Linked DNA regions of Homo sapiens: region 2 is linked to region 1. Evidence: fine-mapped expression QTL. A gene starts in region 1. The other region holds a variant in brackets. All regions are shown on one strand. Distances are between the middles of the regions.

Evidence for each region. PIP is the estimated chance that this variant, and not a neighbour inherited with it, causes the effect. A credible set is the group of variants that fine-mapping cannot tell apart.
Region 2: its variant is the best candidate, but not a certain one, in a credible set for the expression of TAS2R14 in blood mononuclear cells (TOPMed, PIP 0.72).

The regions. Positions count from the first base shown.
Region 1 is chr12:10,937,067-10,942,459 of GRCh38, forward strand. It overlaps TAS2R14 (taste 2 receptor member 14), which reads right to left and starts at 2,197. Exons shown (of 1, transcript NM_023922.2): 1 at 344-2,197. The coding sequence starts at 2,141. The coding sequence ends at 1,188. PRH1-TAS2R14 (PRH1-TAS2R14 readthrough) reads right to left here. Exons shown (of 5, transcript NM_001316893.2): 5 at 344-1,511. The coding sequence ends at 1,188. The region is part of intron 4 of PRH1-PRR4 (PRH1-PRR4 readthrough); the gene reads right to left. It also overlaps a transcript of PRH1 not described here. RefSeq lists an enhancer at 4,844-5,393 and a silencer at 4,851-5,051.
Region 2 is chr12:11,145,461-11,150,853 of GRCh38, forward strand. All of the region lies in intron 1 of PRH1-TAS2R14 (PRH1-TAS2R14 readthrough), which reads right to left. All of the region lies in intron 1 of PRH1-PRR4 (PRH1-PRR4 readthrough), which reads right to left. It also overlaps a transcript of PRH1 not described here. Among named protein-coding and RNA genes, the nearest start is that of TAS2R30, 14 kb to the left of the region's middle. The variant C/T (reference allele first, on the strand shown) is at 2,434.

The sequences.
Region 1 (5,393 bases):
GTCTTCTGGCATACAGTTCTTTGACACAATTTTTCATGTTATTCAAACTGGGATTATCTTCCCCTTTTGGAGATTACCTCTCACTACCTTGCAGCTGCTTTCTGAATTCCCATTTGCCTCTAAGGTTGCAATTTTATTTCTCTCTCTCTCTCTCTCTCTCTCTCTCTGTGTGTGTGTGTGCGTGCGTGTGTATGAATATGTATATTGTATTTTATTAAATCTAGAATGCATAGACTAGAAGACATGTCATTGTTTTATGTACCACCATTAACAAGTATCATTATTTTAATTGGTCAGAGGAGAGGGAAAATATGATCATCTTAATAAACAGCAAAAAATTTGATAGTTTTTAACAGAGATTTTATTACAATACTATACACAGGAAGATAGGAAACAAATATTCTCCCTGAAGAATATTTTTAAAAGAATTTATCTCAAAGCTAGAGTCAGTATTACGTTTATTGTTAAAACACTAGAAAACACTCCATTTGCAAAGACAGCAGTTACGATCAGGATTACTTAACACTTTGAATGTTCAAACCATTTCATTATACAACTGATACCAAAAAAGAATTACAAGTAGTAAAATGGAGAAGTAAAATAATCATTATAAGTCACTATATGCAGATGATATAATTTTCTATCTGCAAAGCCAAGAGAATGAGCAAAGCAAATGTGGTAGTTTAGTAAGGCAGCTGGCTTCTAATTCAACAAACGAAGCAAATTACTTTTTTGCATACACGCTAATCAGGTACTAAATATTATACAAAAATTAAAAACACTTAATATAGGTACTAAAATTCCATATTCTTTTATGTACTTTATCTACCAGATTGAGATGTAAGTTTAAGAAGCCTATTTTTAGTAACTGTGTCACATACATACATACACACATGTATTTTATACATTATAGGTTTTCTCATTTAAAAATCTCAAAAAAGGTGAATGATTGATACAAAATCTATATTATCTGTTTGTATAAGAACTCTTTATAGTATTCGCATTCTTCTCTGTATGGTAATATACATACTTTCATATATCCTAATTTGTGATATGTTTGGATGGTGTTGATTCCAAGCATATCTTTGTAAAATTCACAAAGTTATACACAATGAAAGAATCTTAAGGAAGTATAAATTTATATAACATACAAGAATTTCTTAGGAGCTATTTTTTTTCTAATATATTCAAGATGATTCTCTAAATTCTTTGTGACCTGAGGGCTCCCCATCTTTGAACATGTACCTCAGCCACAGTAGCACTGACAGAGAGGCCTGTCTCAGCTTCTTGTTTCCAAGAATCAGAACACATGAGTGACATGAAGGATAAGCCATTCCCATCACCTGGGAAAGAATAATTAGATTTTCCTCCAACCTTTCAGAGGTCCAAACTGATATGAAAAAAGACAGAGAGAAAATGGCATAGAGTAGGAAGAAAGTGATCACACTTTTAACTCCTCTGTGGGCTTTGGTGCTGGCGTCTCCGGATATTTTGACAGTGTGCTGCATCTTCTTGCGATGTTTCCACATGGAGAAGATGAGGAGAAGAAACATTGCCAGGGACAAAGTAAAGGGTATGAAAATGAACACAGTGCTGGTTAATACAATAAGACTGGAAAATCGTGTAAAGTTACTTGAATCAGAACTGCAAGTCTTGTTTCTTCTGTATCCATTGATACTGGCATTTATATGGATGTTTATCAGTGCAATATTTAAAAACAAGAAGACCGAAGTCACAAGAAGCAGCACCAAAACCACCTTTTTAACCCTCCACTTTAGGTAGAGAAAAATAGAGTTAGAAAAATTGGCTATCTTGAGAAAATAAAAAGTACCGAGGCCTGTAGCTAACCAGACACTAAAATGATTGATCACTGTCCAGATATTAGTAAGCATTCTGAACATTTTTTCAGTGGCAAATAAAGCTGGGAAAAACACAGACACACACCAGCTTCCGAATATTAACCAAACCAGGCTAATTCGAGAGATTGCCAAAGCAGTGAGGATCCGATCAACCGAAGAGATCTTTCTTCCCTTGACCCAGTCAATACAGTTCACCAGTGCTATGAAACTATTTCCTAAATTTCCAATTATAAATTCCACAATTAAAACGAATGTAAATATGCTCTTTATGACACCACCCATTGCCTGTAAGAGCATGCCCCAATGTCTAATATCACTGCTGAAGACTTCTTAATGCATTCATCTAAAATGCTATGTATATCTGATTCTTGAAAATTCAATAATATATTCCCTTTAAAAAGGGAATGTTAAACCAGCAACCATCCAGATTTGCTAATGGCTGGGTTTAAAGCTCTCTTCATAAAAATCTCTGTATTTCCCCAGACAGCTCAGCTGAGCTTCATCCAGATGCTGTGTGCCTTATACACAGTAGGCTGAAGTCTTTTGTAGCTGGTGAGAAAGGAAACACTGAATTCTCATTTGTAAACATGCAAATAAGGACATATTTATTTTCATTGGTTTGTGTGTTTTTTTTTTTTTTTTTTGTCTTATCTACATACTTCAGTCTGTCAAATTGAGTTCTGGGGAAGTATCATTACAAAAATTGGTATATGAAACTTTGTAAGCACTGAGAATTTTTACATACTTCCGTGTTTGGGTGGAGAAAAATGGGGAGATGATGGTGAAAGTTTACAGAACCTCAGTTAGACAAGAGGAATAAGTTTTGTTCTGCTTTTCTGAGATCTATTGAACAGCATTGTGAATATGGTTAATAATAGTGTATTGTACATTACAAAATTGCTGAAAAAGTAACTTTCAAATATTCTCACCATAAAAAAATATTTGTTACCTGTTATCTGTTATATTTATTATCATTTGAATACGTTAATTAGTTTCATTTAATTATTCCACATAGTAGTCATAAATCATAACAACACCTGATACCTCATAAATGTATGCAAGTAAAATATGTCAATTTACAATAAAAATAAAGAAAATAAAGAAAAATCAGATGGTTTTTTAAAGTTAAGTCTGTAAAGGGACTTATTCATAGTTATCCAAAGCTCCTCCTACAAAGTAGCAGAGTTTTCTAATAATCTTGTGGAAGACATTATTCCTAGAATGCTGGGTACCAAGAATAATACTTTTCTATTATTTTACTTTTTACAAGTACATGCCCAGCAAACATGCGCGCACACACACAAACACACAAACGCATACATTTATTTGGGATCTAAATCTTTTTCTCTTTTCACTTAAATAATTCAGGCTTTTTACTTTCAGCATTTATTATGCATCTAGTTCATGTTTAGTACTGTGATAGTTTTAAACACATTTAAAAAGACTTGCAAGTTTATATTAAATAGTAATACATGTAAATATTCCGGAGACTTTGGAAATATTTTCTCTGTACATGTGAGAAGAGGTAGAAATCTATCTATTGTCTCATAAAGCAGTCATTGTGTTTGAATGAGTTCATCCACATGGCAAGAATTCTTATTCTGTGCCTCTCCCCTGCCCAGTAGGGCATATTGCTTCATCAGCACCAAATACCTTCACATTTTTTTCACATATACTCACTCTCCCAGCAACATCTACTCCATGATCCTCACTACAGGGACCAATGTAGATAAAGGATGACATACTGTCTAGCCAAGACGGGGAAATCAGCAGCATGATACAGTCATTCTTCTTCAATAGCTAAAAAAGTAAGTAAAGTGAGCAAAGCACCAATGAAACAAATTCAGCAACAGCTACCAAACAAAGTAGAAAAATATGCCTCATAAACGTCAAAGATGGCAGAGAAAGATGTAAGGTGTTCCACTATGAAGAACTGATCCCTCACCTTCAGTCCCCTGAAGCAAAGCTAAGCAAAAATAAAATAAAATAAAACCAAAATATCTTGGAAATTACCGTATATTTAGTCAAGAGAGCTATTGAAAAGGCAAACTCAGCTAGCATGGACAAATATTAAGGAAAAATCCCAAGGCTAGAAGTACAAACGTACTATCCACATAGAGACAAGAAGGTTACCCTGGCCTCGCTATATCCAGGCAATAAAGATGAGGTTGGGAAAGAAGACAAAGAGAAAGACAAACTACCATGGTGGGTGGGGGGTTGTGTGGTGGGTTCTGTTGAGACTTCATGGATACTTTGAAAAGAGAGCAGAGCTCACGTCTCCAGTGAGAGCTACAATAACCCCAGAGGGTCTCGCCCAAAGGACCTCAGCACTTGCATCATTCATGCTGGGTTGAAAACACTAGGTTTTCATTGGAACAACAGCTCTTAGGGAAAGGCAATCTTTTTCAGAAAAAGAGCAGCAAAAATAATAATTCCCACACACTACATCCAGAAATTAGAATAAAAACTCAGTTCCTCAGAGAAGAGCAGTGTCTTAATCCATTTCAGTGTCAAAGTTACATTTAGGTGTATACAGAACAGATTAGTGTGTTTCATTTTAACTTTTTTATGCATCAAAATTTATGTACTAACTGTATCAAATGTTTGAATTTATTTATTATTAAAATTTATTATTTATTTATTATTAAAATTTATTATTTATTATTAAAATTTATTTGAATATTTCTCCCTTCACTTCTTGTATCATATTTTTGGATTTCCTTGCATTGGGCTTCACTTTTCTCTGGTGCCTTTCTGATTAGCTTAATAACTAACCTCCTGAATTTTTTTTCAGGTAAATCAGGGATTTCTTCTTGGTTTGGATCCATTGCTGGTGAGCTAGTGTGATGTTTGGGGAGTGTTAAAGAGCCTTGTTTTGTCATATTACCAGAGTTGGTTTTCTGGCTCCTCCTCATTTGGGTAGGCTCTATCAGAGAAAAGATCTAGGGCTGAAGGCTGTTGTTTAGACTTTTTTGTTCCAGAGGGTGTTTCTTTGATGTAGTATTCTCCCTTTTTTCCTATGGATGTGGCTTCCTGACAGCTGAGCTGTAGTAATTGTTATCTCTCTTCTGGATCTAGTCACCAAGAAAGTCCACCAGGCTCCAGGCTGATATTGGGGTTGTCTGCACAGAGTCCTGTGATGTAAACCATCTGTTGGTCTCTCAACTGTGGATACCAGCACCTGTTCTGGTGGAGGTGGCAGGGGGGTGAAATGGACTCTGTGAGGGTTCTTAGCTTTGGGAGTTTAATGCTCTATTTTTGTGTGGTTGGCCTCCTACCAGGAGGTAGTTCTTTCTAGAGAGCATCAGCTGTGATAGTATGAAGAGGCACCGGCAGTGGGTAAGTCACTAGAACTCTCAAGAGTTTATGCCCTTTGTGCTCAGAATACCAGGGTGGGTAGGGAAGTACCATCAGGTGGGGCAGAGCTAAGCATGTCTGAGCTCAGACTCACTCTCTCCTGCTGTGGCTGCTAGGGGGGATGGGGCTGAGGTTTCCAGGTTAATGGAGTTATGCACCTAGAAGGAAGCTGCCTCT
Region 2 (5,393 bases), 210 kb after region 1:
AGGATTACAGGTGTGAGCCACCATACCCAGTCTACATGTTCTAAAAAATGAAATTGTTCCTCACTGATACATAATCCCTCAATATTAGAATTTCTCAAATTAAATTCCTGAAAATGTTAGAATTAAAAGGTATTTTCTAAAACAGAAAAGGATTTCACAGAAAAGGAAATTTGGGAAACTCCACATAGAGCACTTCCTTTTACATACTAACAGAGTATACAGAAAGCTTATGATTTAAAAACAAACAAAAAGGTTAAAGTCGCTTAAGCCAGCATTGCCTAAAATATTTAAAAATTAAGAACTTTTTTTTTGTAACAACTATGAATATTCTGCTGAACTCTGAGAAATTCTGCTCTATATCTCTTTTAATGACAAATGTGTATTCTGCTATAATGAAGCATTATAATGTTTTTAAGCATAAAAAATGTTAAGGCTTTTATCTTAATGTTAACAAACTATACATAGCTCTATAACTGTTTTTGCATATCTGTAATCATTTTATGATTATTTTTAGAAACGTTTCAGAAATATGTAGTTATACATGCATATCAAAAAGTATGTGTACATAGATACATAGATATAAAGTGTATGTATTTTTATGCTAAATTCGCTTTGACTATATCCTACTATATGCTTCTACCAGTAGTGAAAGAGATTTTTCATGTTTCTGAGCTTTTTACTATCTGGATACCTTTTTAGTATTTTTATAATATATTTTACCAACAGATGTTCCTCATTCTGTGCGTCTTTACACATTTTTTTTCTTTCAGTCTTTTTCTAGTATTCATTCTGCTTTATTCTTCTAGGTAGTTTTTTTACTGAATCTAAAGTGTTTCCCAGGCCCTTAGCATAATAAACTACTCTAAATGAGAAAAAAAATGGCAATATTTGCCTTAACATCTTACATGTATACCTGAATTTGGCAAGAATTGATGTCATCACAACAATGAGAATGTCATCTAAGAACATGATTTTTTTATTAGGTAAAATGAGTATTTTTAATTTCATCCATATATTCCTAGTTTTAATACTCTTTCTGTATTCATTATCAAATGCCTAGATGTATAATTAGACTAGAGTCAGACAGCTAACTTAGCTGGATTAATTAACAGATCTTTCCAAGGAATTTAAAACTTATCAAACTTTTCCTTTATGTTTCGTGGTTTTTGTATCTTTCAGATAAAATCCTCACCTACCCTGAATTTATAAAATAATTTACATTTTTCTTAGCTTTAAATTTTGTTCTTAATGTTTAGATCTTAGTCCTTTTGGACTATTTTTTGTGATACAAGTTACACACTGATTTTCCTCCTTATGAAAAGTCCATTATCCAAACAATTTACTGCAAAAAACACATCTTATCTACTAATTTCTAATGATAATCTTATTATAAGACAAATTACATGTGCACAAAAAGTAAATTACCTAAATATATTCTGCCTTACTATTCCCTTTTGTTGTCTATTGCATCCTTCTGTGCCAAAATTCTTTCAATTTTCATAATTACACTATAATAAATCTTGATACCCAGTAAAGAACTTACCTCCTTCTTTTTCCAAGTTTTCTTGCCTATCTCCGAACTGTTAATTTTCTATATGTATTTTTCAAGTCATTTTTCACAATTTTCACAAAACTTTAATAAGACTTTGCCACAACTTGCATTGACTATATTAATCTAGAAAGAAATTATATTTTATAATACTCAGTTTATCTATGAACATGATACATCTCTTCATGTATTGTTTTTGAAACAATGTCTCACTCCAGTTGCCCAGGCTGGAGTGCAGTGGCACGATCTCGGCTCACTGCAGCATCAGCCTCCCAAGATCAGATCCTCCCACCTCAGCTTACTGAGTAGCTGTGACTACAGGTGTGTGCCACCACACACCGCTAATTTTTGTATTTTTAGTAGAGACAGGGTTTCACCAGGTTTCCCAGGCTGGTCTCGAGCCCCTGGACTCAAGGAATCCACCTGCCTGGGCCTCCCAACATGCTGGGATTACAGACATGAGCCATGACACCTGGCCAAAGAATTTTTTAAATTTACATATTGTAATTTACTGTTGGCAATAGATACACTGTTTTTTGGTAAATCGATGTTATATGAAGAACCTTGTTATCTTTTCTTATGCTAATAGTACCTGTTGATTCTTTAGGAGTGTTCATTTAAGCAGTGACATCATCACATCATTATACTGTAAATTTGTCTATCTCATTCCAGTTCCTAGATGAGTTTATATTGCTTGTCCTATTACATTAGCTAAAAGTGCTAGAACAATGTTGAGTTCTACAGATGTTAAAGAGCATTTCTGCCTTATTTAAGATATCAGTGAACTTTAAAGTAGTTTTCCAATTCTGTGAAGAAAGTCATTGTTAGCTTGATGGGGATGGCATTGAATCTATAAATTACCTTGGGCAGTATGGCCATTTTCA[C/T]GATATTGATTCTTCCTACCCATGAGCATGGAATGTTCTTCCATTTGTTTGTATCCTCTTTTATTTCATTGAGCAGTGGTTTGTAGTTCTCCTTGAAGAGGTCCTTCACATCCCTTGTAAGTTGGACTCCTAGGTATTTTATTCTCTTTGAAGCAATTGTGAATGGGAGTTCACTCATGATTTGGCTCTCTGTTTGTCTGTTATTGGTGTATAAGAATGCTTGTGATTTTTGTACATTGATTTTGTATCCTGAGACTTTGCTGAAGTTGCTTATCAGCTTAACGAGATTTTGGGCTGAGACAATGGGATTTTCTAGATATACAATCATGTCGTCTGCAAACAGGGACAATTTGACTTCCTCTTTTCCTAATTGAATACCCTTTATTTCCTTCTCCTGCCTCATTGCCCTGGTCACAACTTCCAACACTATGTTGAATAGGAGTGGTGAGAGAGGGCATCCCTGTCTTGTGCCAGTTTTCAAAGGGAATGCTTCCAGTTTTTGCCCATTCAGTATGATATTGGCTGTGGGTCTGTCATAGATAGCTCTTATTATTTTGAGATACGTCCCATCAATACCTAATTTATTGAGAGTTTTTAGCGTGAAGGTTGTTGAATTTTGTCAAAGGCCTTTTCTGCATCTATTGAGATAATCATGTGGTTTTTGTCTTTGGTTCTGTTTATATGCTGGATTACATTTATTGATTTGCATATATTGAACCAGCCTTGCATCCCAGGGATGAAGCCCACTTGATCATGGTGGATAAGCTTTTTGATGTGCTGCTGGATTCGGTTTGCCAGTATTTTATTGAGGATTTTTGCATCAATGTTCATCAAGGATATTAGTCTAAAATTCTCTTTTTGGTTGTGTCTCTGCCCAGCTTTGGTATCAGGATGATGCTGGCCTCATAAAATGAGTTAGGGAGGATTCCCTCTTTTTCTATTGATTGGAATAGTTTCAGAAGGAATGGTACCAGTTCCTCCTTGTACCTCTGGTAGAATTCGGCTGTGAATCCATCTGGTCCTGGACTCTTTTTGGTTGGTAAGCTATTGATTATTGCCACAATTTCAGATCCTGTTATTGGTCTATTCAGAGACTCAACTTCTTCCTGGTTTAGTCTTGGGAGAGTGTATGTGTCAAGGAATTTATCCATTTCTTCTAGATTTTCTAGTTTATTTGCGTAGAGGTGTTTGTAGTATTCTCTGATGGTAGTTTGTATTTCTGTGGGATCGGTGGTGATATCCCCTTTATTATTTTTTATTGTGTCTATTTGATTCTTCTCTCTTTTTTTCTTTATTAGTCTTGCTAGCAGTCTATCAATTTTGTTGATCCTTTCAAAAAACCAGCTCCTGGATTCATTAATTTTTTGAAAGGTTCTTTGTGTCTCTATTTCCTTCAGTTCTGCTCTGATTTTAGTTATTTCTTGCCTTCTGCTAGCTTTTGAATGTGTTTGCTCTTGCTTTCGCCAAGTCAATCCTAAGCCAAAAGAACAAAGCTGGAGGCATCACGCTACCTGACTTCAAACTATACTACAAGGCTACAGTAACCAAAACAGCATGGTACTGGTACCAAAACAGAGATATAGATCAATGGAACAGAACAGAGCCGTCAGAAATAACGCCGCATATCTACAACTATCTGATCTTTGACAAACCTGAGAAAAACAAGCAATGGGGAAAGGATTCCCTATTTAATAAATGGTGCTGGGAAAACTGGCTAGCCATATGTAGAAAGCTGAAACTGGATCCCTTCCTTACACCTTATACAAAAATTAATTCAAGATGGATTAAAGACTTAAACATTAGACCTAAAACCATAAAAACCCTAGAAGAAAACCTAGGCATTACCATTCAGGACATAGGCATGGGCAAGGACTTCATGTCTAAAACACCAAAAGCAATGGCAACAAAAGACAAAATTGACAAATGGGATCTCATTAAACTCAAGAGCTTCTGCACAGCAAAAGAAACTACCATCAGAGTGAACAGGCAACCTACAGAATGGGAGAAAATTTTCGCAACCTACTCATCTGACAAAGGGCTAATATCCAGAATCTACAATGAACTCAAACAAATTTACAAGAAAAAAACAGACAACCCCATCAAAAAGTGGGCAAAGGACATGAACAGACACTTCTCAAAAGAAGACATTTATGCAGCCAAAAAACACATGAAAAAATGCTCATCATCACTGGCCATCAGAGAAATGCAAATCAAAACCACAGTGAGATACCATCTCACACCAGTTAGAATGGCAATCACTAAAAAGTCAGGAAACAACAGGTGCTGGAGAGGATGTGGAGAAATAGGAACACTTTTACACTGTTGGTGGGACTGTAAACTAGTTCAACCATTGTGGAAGTCAGTGTGGCGATTCCTCAGGGATCTAGAGCTAGAAATACCATTTGACCCAGCCATCCCATTACTGGGTATAAACCCAAAGGACTATAAATCATGCTGCTATAAAGACACATGCACACGTATGTTTATTGCAGCACTATTCACAATAGCAAAGACTTGGAACCAATCCAAATGTCCAACAATGATAGACTGGATTAAGAAAATGTGGCACATATACACCATGGAATACTAAGCAGCCATAAAAAATGATGAGTTCATGTCCTCTGTAGGGACATGGATGAAATTGGAAATCATCATTCTCAGTAAACTATGGCAAGGACAAAAAACCAAACACTGCATGTTCTCACTCATAGGTGGGAATTGAACAATGAGAACACATGGACACAGGAAGGGGAACATCACATTCTGGGGACAGTTGTGGGGTTGGGGGAAGGGGAAGGGATAGCATTAGGAGATATACCTAATGCTAAATGACGAGTTAATGGGTGCAGCACACCAGCATGGCTCATGTATACATATGTAACTTACCTGCACATTGTGCACATGTACCCTAAAACTTAAAGTATAATAATAATGAAAAAAGATATCAGTGAAAATATTTT